Linked DNA regions of Homo sapiens. The protein of the gene in region 1 purifies or fractionates together with the protein of each later gene. This does not show direct contact. Each region holds a gene or a part of one and is shown on either strand. Other genes may lie near its edges.

Region 1 (3,656 bases):
TTACAAATGCAAAAGTTTGTTGGAAATTGTATTTGAATGCCCCACATCTGTGTAACCAATCCTCTCTATATGAGGATGTTGTGTATGTTTCAGTTTTATTTTGAAATTTTCCAGAAATGGAATCTTTTAACTGATTTTAGGGAAACCCTTTAATCTCTCTAGGCTGCCTTTCTTTATCTATGAAATGAAATAGTAAGTTCTTTTTAGCTCTGCGATTTAAAAGCTTTAATTTTAAATGAGAGAGTGGTTAGTGATCTTCATGAAGTTTGATAGGTGGCAATACATTTAACTGATTTTGCTCTTTATGTGTAGATCATGGAAGGGAAGTGGTTGCTGTGTATGTTACTGGTGCTTGGAACTGCTATTGTTGAGGCTCATGATGGACATGATGATGATGTGATTGATATTGAGGATGACCTTGACGATGTCATTGAAGAGGTAGAAGACTCAAAACCAGATACCACTGCTCCTCCTTCATCTCCCAAGGTTTGAAATGGTCTTTGAATCTATTCCTTTTACGTCTTGAGATGATAAAATTATGAAGATACCCGGGTGCAGGGAAATGTAGTCTCAACTACTCAGGAGGCCTAGGACAGGAGTGTGAGTCCAGCCTTGGCAACACAGGGAGATATCATCTCTAATAAAATATAAAAGAAAAACATGGTGAAGATAAATTTGGAACGTTTTCAAAGGGAAAGCAAAATTCGTGAAAATACTTATTGATCTCTCTGGCAGCCTTTGTCTTGCTAGAGGCCAATTATATGGGTTGAATTTGAAGGCCAGCTATGAAATTTTTGTGACAGTTGAAAGCAAACCAGGAGAATAGATTCTAGATAAAAAGGCATGTTGCTGAAAATTTAAATTTTTAATTCATTTATGTATTTAACACAGGTTACTTACAAAGCTCCAGTTCCAACAGGGGAAGTATATTTTGCTGATTCTTTTGACAGAGGAACTCTGTCAGGGTAAGTGTTTTCCAGAGAAATATATGTTAGAGGCAGACATGTAAATAAGATGGGATAGTAGATTCCTTTTTGGATAGCATCTTTTATAGTGAAATGTCTAACTTTATTTTATTTTATTTATTTATTTTTTGAGACAGAATTTCGCTCTTTTGCCTGGGCTGGAGTGCAATGGCGTGATACCGGCTCATTGCCACCTCCGTCTCCTGGGTTCAAGTGATTCTCCTGCCTCAGCTTCCCAAGTAGCTGGGATTATAGGCATGCGCCACCATGCTGGCTAATTTGTGTGTGTGTGTTGTTATTTTTTTAGTAGAGATGGGGTTTTGACATGTTGGCCAGGCTGGTCTTGAACTCCTGACCTCAGGTGGTCCACTTGCCTTAGCCTCCCAAATTGTTGGCATTACAGGCATGAGCCACCGCACCTGGCCTGAAATTTCTAGCTTTAATATCTTCAGTGTTAACATCCATGCAGGAAAATAGTCTTTTGGAATTTGTGGTTTTTACTTCCACTTCTTTCCCTCCCCCACTCTACCCTATATTTTGTTCTTTGATTGAGGAAAAAAATTTTCTCTTGATGTTAAAACATCAGTGGAATTATCTCATAGGTTTGGTACTTTTTCATATAGGTTTGTGAGTTGAAGATAATGTATTATCATTAGTTGTGTGACAGATTTAAAGGTTGGAAGTAGAGTGGTTAAATAGGCTAAGAGCAGAATAGGTCCTACTTTAATGAGTATTTACATAATTTTCCCTCACAAGTCAACTGTCATTTTAAGACTGATTTTGGGATTTGTTATTTACAGGTGGATTTTATCCAAAGCCAAGAAAGACGATACCGATGATGAAATTGCCAAATATGATGGTGAGAATCCCATTTGGTTTAGATATAATAGCAGATAGAGGTTTGACATGTTGTCTCCATGGCATTTCCTAAGACTAGTTTAAAAGGACATAGTAGGCTTTAAGATTTTTCCAGCCAGGTGCGGTGGCTCACGCCTGTAATCCCAGCACTTTCGGAAGCCAAGGCGGGCAGATCACGAGGTCAGGAGATCGAGACCATCCTGGCTAACACAGTGAAACCCCGTCTCTACTGAAAATACAAAAAATTAGCTGGGCGTGGCAGCGTGCATCTGTAGTCCCAGCTGCTGGGGAGGCTGAGGCAGGAGAATGGTGTGAACCCGGGAGGCCAAGCTTGCAGTGAGCCGAGAACGCGCCACTGCACTCCAGCCTGGGTGACAGAGCGAGACTCCGTCTCAAAAAAAAAAAAAAAAAAAAGATTTTTCCATGGAAGTTTTGCCACCTTTGTGTGTTGCCTAATTTTTTTTTTTTTTTTTTTTTTATTTAAGGTTCAGGGGTGCATGTGTAGCCTTATATTTAATAGGATTAGATCTGTTTAATCACCTGTGCTACTGAATGTTGGAAATTTCTAGACAGTAGTATAATACACTACAGTTTTAAAAAGCCATATCTGAATAATATTTGCCAAATAAAGTGTGTTTATTTATTATTTATTTACTTTTTTGAGACGGAGTCTCATTCTTGCCACCCAGGCTTCTGGAATAGAGTGGCGTGATCTTGGCTCACCGCAACCTCTGTTTCTTGGGTTCAAGCGATTCTCCTGCCTCAGCCTACCGAGTAGTTGGGATTACAGGTGCCCATCACCACGCCCGGCTAATTTTTGTGTTTTTATTAGAGATGGGGTTTCACCATGTTGGCCAGGCTGGTCTCGAACTCCTGACCTTGAGTGATCCGCCTGCCCTCAGCCTCCCTAAGTGCTGGGATTATAGGTGTGAGCGACCACGGCTGCCCCAGTATAATATATTTATGCAACTAGGAGGTGTTTTTTTTGGCATTTAAAGGACCTTCAGAGGTAGAGTTAAGCAGTGGAACTTTTTTGTGTTGTCTTGTAGGAAAGTGGGAGGTAGAGGAAATGAAGGAGTCAAAGCTTCCAGGTGATAAAGGACTTGTGTTGATGTCTCGGGCCAAGCATCATGCCATCTCTGCTAAACTGAACAAGCCCTTCCTGTTTGACACCAAGCCTCTCATTGTTCAGTAAGTGAAATGCTTGTTGGATAAAAGCTTTCTGCAAAGGGTAATCTTAGAAGACATTATGTAACTTTTACTCTATGTTAAAAAATTATGAGATTATATAAGTGGTGGTAGGGATTTTTGGGTGAATTTAAACACCTTGTAATTAATAGTTTTTCCTGGCTAATGCATTATTTTGAAAGAAACTGGTTACTTATTTTCCTGACTCTAAATAACTTGTAGATTTTGCAGAACAAATTTACCGGAAATCTGCATTAATAGTTTTTGTAATTAATTAATTACAAAACTAGTAATTAATAGTTTTTCCTGCCTAATGCATTATTTTGAAAGAAACTGGTTACTCATTTTCCTGACTCTAAATAACTTGTAGATTTTGCAGAACAAATTTACTGGAAATCTGCATTAATGTTCAATTTAATTTTATTTATTTTTGTGGCATTTGATAACTATTCAAAAACAATAGAAGATGGAATCCTTTGTAAGGGTAAACATTTGACCTATGATAAAACGTGACTAAGATGAGGGAGAGAGGAAATACATTAAGAGAGTTTCGATCTTTCAAAATGCCATACAGTTTTCTGCTTTTCTCTCTGATATTAGGTATGAGGTTAATTTCCAAAATGGAATAGAATGTGGTGGTGCCTA
Region 2 (2,997 bases), on another chromosome or scaffold:
GAGATCTAAAACATGGAATGGACAAGTGAAGTCAGGATTGGCAAGAAAAAAAAAAAAGGTTTCCCTGAAAATCTTTCAGAAAGAGAGTTCAATCCAATTGTGGGGATAGAAGCCATATTGTAGGGAGGAAGAAGGTATAGAGAGGAAATGAAGTAGTGGTTAGGAATAAAAACTTGTAAGAAGTTTGTTTGACAGTGAAAGGAAGGAATAATAGTCTCATAGATGAAGAGGAGAGCAAGAGACAGAACGTTTTTCCCAGCACAGAGAAAAACCTATGGGTGGTTAAAGGAAGTGGTAAAGGAGCCAGGAGATGACTGGAGGTGTTGGAGAAAACAGATGTAAGGGTGCAAACCAGAATGCAAAAGACTTGAGAAGAGATGGCATCAGCAAACCACCTCATCACTGTAGCCAAACTAATGCAGGGTCGATCATCTGAATGTCCAAAGCCAAGAGTCTCCTCTTCCTGAATATGAGTAGGAATTAGAGGAGTAACCAACCTGTCTAACCAGGTAACTAAAGCTGCTTTTGTGTGAAATAACCGTTGGGAACAATTGGAACTGTGTGAGACAAATAAAAGCCAGGTGGCTCCTGGGAAACCTGCCTTAAGGGGAATCCACACCAACTTTAAGTGTAGCTGAGGTGTCACAACAGCATCTGGGGCTAGCCTTAAAGTGGAAAAAAAAAATCACACTTTTTCTCCCACTGATGAAGGCAAGCCCTAGAAAATAGAGCTTTGTAAGTTAGACACTACAATTCACTGGTTTCATATAGAAAACTAATTACAAAGGCATCCTTATGATGCCAAAAATTAGGGACTCTATTAGGTAACTGAACTATGTTTTCCAAAGTATAAAAACTTGCCTCTAGACTTGGAAGTTATATGTAGCCTGCTTGAGACCAAAACTCAAAGGCAGAGACACATCTGGCTAATTATTAATCCAGAACTCTCTCTGAAGTCAGCATTATTTTCAAAGAAAATGGTTGGATATAGCCAAGAGAACATGTAATATTTAACTGATTATAGAGAACACACATAGAAAACTACATTTTAAATGAAAAATCTTCAAATAATGCTCATGGTCTTTATATACTGTTTCATAAAAGCTGGGAAAGACTCTTATTCAAATTCTTGGCAGTGAAATATTGCTAGAGTGACAATTAAACAGTTAGATTTGACAGAAACCAATTCCTGAATTCTCAAAATCTGAACTTAACCCCTCATTCCTATTTCTCCCCAAAGACCTCAGCCCATAGCATAAGCCAGAAACAAGCATCTCCTTTTTACTTTCTTTTTAAAAATGCAGACACCATTGCTGCTGGGCACATTATAAGCATCATTTGTAGATGAGGCCTATAGTTAGGTTCAATTAGATTCAAAGAGAAGCTGTTTCACAGAATACAAGTCTCCCATTCTTCAACAGAGATGTGGGCTGCTTTTAAACGGCAAGCTCTACAAGAGAGGGCTTATGAAAATCCCTTTCTGTAGCCAAGATGGACACTGTCCTTTCCCTGACACACCAAGCACCAAATCCTCATTTGGAATCTAGCAAATCTCTCAAAAATTTTAAAATCAAAACCAGAAACCCAAGTTTCCATAGAGAACTGGCTAAAAATTGGTATGCAATCATAGCAAGTGACTCAGCACTGCTACAATTACTTCAAGCCATGAACTTGATGCGTCCAAGATTAAGGAGCCTATCAAAATGCACCCAAGTTTCAGGCTGCTTAGTAATAACTATTGTCCTGCCACGAATCCCCATTACTGGTAGAAATTTGACCCAGACACAATTTTAAAAATGCTTACAAGTGAACTGAGACTCCCAGTCACTCAGAGTCTCCTGCTGGGCAGCAGTGAGGTCAGAAAGGTCATCGTACTCATCCTTCAGTGCTTCCTTATCCAGGCAAAATGTGGCAAGGCCCCTGGATGCATCTCTTCCAGCAAAGACCCCATACGGCCCCTCTTCAAAAACAAAACCAAAGATCAATTCTTTATTAGACAGTCAATTTCTCTGTGATTTATACACAGAAAATGGCTTCCCTATTCATCAACATAGCCCCATTTTTGAATATCAAATTCCATTAGGAAACCATAGTAATGCTGATATTCTGAACATTATGTAGGAGACACAGAAAGACCTGTTGTCATTTAACTTTTAAATAACTAAAAGTAAATCAAACTGCTATACATTTGCGTCAGTCTCCTGTGGTTTCCAAATAGCTAGTAAAAAAGTCATACGTGGTTAGTGATCTCTTGGGGTAGTGGTAGTAGGGAATCATACAAGAACATTGAACTGGGAGCCTGACAGTTCTAGGCACTTGGGGCTACACCAGTGAGAGTTATGGTTTCTTAAGATAATAAGCACTGATGTGTACATGAAAACACATTTCCTTATGAATATATTCTGATATGTTTTAATGAAACAAAGGTATCTTATAGAGATCTTTGGTTCCAAGGCTCAATTAAACATTAACTCATGGCATCTGCAGAAGAACCATTTTATAACAGTATCGGTGGTTTAAAAATCTATCCACATTACATAACCTTCACTGTCAATAAATAGATAACACAGAGATCAGTCTTCATTATCTGTTTTTTGGTGGGCTTGAGAAGACTGTGAAAATACTAAAATTTTCATGGAAAAGAGGCTGAATCAATACTGCAAAACAACTCTATAAAACAACTCTATAAAATGTGATTATTTGTGATATTATACTGAACTTTTGTCTAAGAGAGCAGAGAATCATTCTGTGGGTACACAAAGTGGATATTTAGACTTATTTAAATATTGCACAACTAAATGAAGAGAATCCAGTGTACTTTAAACAATGTGTTGTTTCCCCCAAGGCAGATTGAATAGCAGCCCTGACATTAAAATGTTTGTAGGGAACCAAGTATGAGAATAGATCAAGTTTCAATATGGCCTGTTCACCTGAAACCTCAATACACTCAGAAATTTTTTACAAATTTTACAACTTTTAAATGCAAGTAAAATTCCA
Region 3 (3,656 bases), on another chromosome or scaffold:
ATCAGTGGACATTTAGATTATCCCTTACCACATCACTTTGCTTTTTGGATAACGCAAGCAATGCTGCAGTGAACATCCTTGTTACTGTGAACACTCATGTAAATATATATGTAGGCTAAATTCCTAAAAGTATAATAACTAGGGCAATTAATGTCATTTTAAAATCTTGATAAATAGGCTGGGTGAGGTGGCTCACGCCTGTTATCCCAGCACTTTGGATGGCTGAGACAGGCAGATCATCTGAGGTCAGGAGTTCAAGACCAGCCTGGCCAACATGGTGAGAACCTATCTCTACTAAAAATAAAAAAATTAGCTGGGCATGGTGGCCTGTGCCTGTAATCCTAGCTACTCGGGAGGCTGAGGCAGGAGAATCACTTGAAACCCGAGGTGGAGGTTGCAGTCAGCTGAGATTGCGCCATTGCACTCCAGCCTGGGCCACAGAGCAAGGCTCCATCTCAAAAAAAAAAAAAAATCTTGATAAACAGGCTGGGCACAGTGGCTCTCACCTGTAATCCCAGCACTTTGGGAGGCTGAGGTGGGAGGATCACTTGAGCCCAAGAGTTCAAGATCAGTCTGGACAACATACCAAGACTGTCTCTCCACACACACACACACACACACACACACACACACACACACAAACACATACAGAGTTGCCAGGTGTGTTGGCACACACCTGTAGTCCCAGCTACTCAGGAGGCTGAGGTGAGAAGATTGCTTGAGCCTAGGATTTTTGAGGCCACAGTGAGCCATGATCATGCCACTGCACTCTTCAGCCTGAGTGGCAGAGCGAGAGACCCTGCCTCAAATAAAAAAAACCTTAAAAAAAGAGAAATCTTGGTAAATAGAATCTAATTGTCCTACAAAGAGGCTAAACACTTCCACAACCGATATATCATATGCTGTGAATAGATCTCACACCCTTACCAACACTGCACTATTGGACTTTTTGATCTTTGCCAATCTGATTGGTAAAATTGGTATCTAGTTTCATTGACATTTCTTTATTATTAATACAGTTGAGCATCTTTTCCTATGTTTGTGAACTGTTGATATTTTTTGCAGTTATCTCCCTATATAAAAAACACTTTTTTTTTTTTTGGCTAGAGGAGCTCACTACATTGCCTACTGTGTCACTATGTTGCTGGTCTAGAACTCTTGGGCTCAAATAACCCTTCTGCCTAAGTCTCCCAAGTAGTAAAACAATATTTTAAATCAGTTATTTCCATGCTGCCAGAAAATTTTGATCAAGCCTTTGAATATTGCCCCTAGCATAGTGCTGGTCAGGACCTCAGAGGATGAGGCAGAAACAAGCTAAACTGTCAGTGTATCTTCTTTTTCTTTCAAGAAATCCCTGATTTCCCAGGGAATCTAGTCAGAAAGCTGTGTTACACTATTTATGATTATGTATATAACACTTTTTCTGGCTTGCAGAACTGATTTTGATAATGTTCTTTATTCAGGTTGAAGGTAATGAAAGGTTTTCTATCTGTTCTCATAAACTAGGAGACTTAATTATAATGGAAATAAAAATGGTGTCTTTGTGAGGAGCAAAGCCAAAGGAACACAGGTGGAAAATTAGCTATTTCAGCTATTACGAGAGTTTGTATCTTGTCTACTAATTAAACTATTCCATATAAGGGAAATAAAGAAAAGAACTGGAATGAATAAAGTGGTAGAAGTAGCAATAATACTCCCTTCAAAGCTATGACGATTTATTTGGAAAATTTTATTAAGTATTGTAAGCTGGAGCAGCTTAGCTATGAGTGAACTTGCACAATACAAAAAAGCAGAATAGCCCCTTTAGAAGCATTGTTTTCAGGAGACTTTGCAGTAGACTGATGATATGGAACACTGGAACACTGGCTTGTCTTACTTTAAAATGTGAATGGGACCTCGCCTTGTCCTAGAGCCTGCAGGCACTACTCTGCTGAATTTATGGTATGTCTGGTTGACAGGTGTAGTGGTGTTGAGCACTTTATTTTGGAAGTGATCGGGCGTCTCCCTGACATGGAGATGGTGATCAATGTACGAGATTATCCTCAGGTTCCTAAATGGATGGAGCCTGCCATCCCAGTCTTCTCCTTCAGTAAGGTAAGTACAGGGAGAGCCACATGGGTGGATGGAGAGTGGTCCTCTAGGATATGAGCATGAGATCTTTGTCCGGTGACATAGTCTGATGGATAATGGTAAGGATGAGGACTGAGGTCCAGAAATGGGTCTGTGTCTCTATTAGCATCACAGTGATTGAGCAAAAAGACAGAGGAGATGAAGTTGAGAGCTGGTAAGTAGTGTAAGATTGCTTGAGTGTCTATAGGGCTAGAGATGGAGGCTAGGGCGTGAGAGGCCTGAGAAACCTACAGGAATTAGAGGTGGGTCTTGAAGATCTTACAGAGCATGGGAGGAAGGGGTCCAAGAAAGCTTGGAGTTAGGGAACACCTTCATTCCAAAAGTTTGTTGAGCTCCTACTATGTATATATTCAGCCATAGTGCTGGGTATCAGCTGTCCCATCTGTCACCATATTCCGGGGGCCCAGGGTGGCTAAAAGTGAACCTGAAGGTGCCAGATAACTCCACACGGTGTGTGTACAAGCCGTGCATTGAAGGGATAGGCTGGAGATAGCCTAGAGGGCTATGCAAGGGGGTGATCTTTTAGACTCATCATGGAAGATTGGAGTAGCTAGGATACACCTGTGGGCTTGGGGAATTGGGGGCAAGGAATGTCTTGTCAGTGCTCAGGTTCATGTAAATGTTGTATCGGCAGGGATGGGCCTTGGTTCCCTAGAGACAAGGAAAGCATTTGGGGGTGAAGGCAGGAAGGCTAGAAGAGAGTGGATGGAAGATTCTATGGGGTAAGAGTGAATTGAGGAAAACCCCATGAAATTTGGGAAAAGGAACACTATTTCTGATTTGGTTTGTCTAAAGCAGAGGGACCTTTTATCCCCACTTTTTCTTTATCATAGTTTACTTTCTCCCTAGACTTGTTTTATTTCCTGTGTTGCAAGTGGGCAGAGGCCACATTTGTGTTGCATTTCCCATGGTCTAGCCTCATTTCTCGAAAGTGTTTGGTTCCATTGTTTGTCATGAAACTCACTCAGAAGAACAGATAGAGGCTCCCATGTAAGTCAGTAGGGACTTCGTGTTTGTTATCTATCTGTTGTTTCTATGGATAATAAAGTATGACCGTCGGTATACTAACTTTCCGTTCATCTTTACTTCCCTTCTGTTTTTTAAATCAGTGACTTCTAGTTTCCAAGGGAGAGTTTTACTCTGTCAACTTTATAGTTAATTGTGCAGCTTCTATTGAATAGCTGTTATGTTTAAGGTGCTTGATGAATCACATTTTTTACATATTTGAGAGACAGCAAACAGCATATTGCACATGTATTTCCAGTGGAAGAAATAGTAGAGTTAGAGGTTTATCAGTGGCCAGATTTTTAACAGAAGTAACCATAAAAAGGGAACAAATGGAGGCCAGGTGTAGTGGCTCACACCTGTAATCCCAGCACTTTGGGAGGCCGAGGCAGGTGGATCAAAAAAAAAAAAAAAAGGGGGGAACATATGGCTTTAAACTTTTTTCTTTTTTTTGAGGCAGAGTCTCACTCTGTTGCCCAGGCTGGAGTGCAGTGGCGCGATCTCAGCTCACTGCAACCTCC

Evidence for each region.
Region 2: the proteins of CANX (region 1) and PGRMC1 purify together in Homo sapiens (affinity purification with mass spectrometry; 3 studies listed by BioGRID and IntAct, with this or other methods). This does not show direct contact.
Region 3: the proteins of CANX (region 1) and POGLUT1 purify together in Homo sapiens (affinity purification with mass spectrometry; 4 studies listed by BioGRID and IntAct, with this or other methods). This does not show direct contact.

Annotation. Positions count from the first base shown.
Region 1 is NC_000005.10:179,705,367-179,709,022, forward strand, and holds part of CANX (calnexin isoform d precursor), read left to right. Parts: intron 1-312; coding exon of another isoform or gene 313-315; coding exon 316-486; intron 487-891; coding exon 892-965; intron 966-1,765; coding exon 1,766-1,824; intron 1,825-2,872; coding exon 2,873-3,014; intron 3,015-3,611; coding exon 3,612-3,656. UniProt on the Homo sapiens protein: Calcium-binding protein that interacts with newly synthesized monoglucosylated glycoproteins in the endoplasmic reticulum. It may act in assisting protein assembly and/or in the retention within the ER of unassembled protein subunits.
Region 2 is NC_000023.11:119,239,272-119,242,268, reverse strand, and holds part of PGRMC1 (membrane-associated progesterone receptor component 1), read right to left. Parts: intron 1,961-2,997; coding exon 1,805-1,960; intron 1-1,804. UniProt on the Homo sapiens protein: Component of a progesterone-binding protein complex. Binds progesterone. Has many reported cellular functions (heme homeostasis, interaction with CYPs). Required for the maintenance of uterine histoarchitecture and normal female reproductive lifespan.
Region 3 is NC_000003.12:119,475,355-119,479,010, forward strand, and holds part of POGLUT1 (protein O-glucosyltransferase 1 precursor), read left to right. Parts: intron 1-1,958; coding exon 1,959-2,094; intron 2,095-2,979; exon of another isoform or gene 2,980-3,120; intron 3,121-3,656. UniProt on the Homo sapiens protein: Dual specificity glycosyltransferase that catalyzes the transfer of glucose and xylose from UDP-glucose and UDP-xylose, respectively, to a serine residue found in the consensus sequence of C-X-S-X-P-C.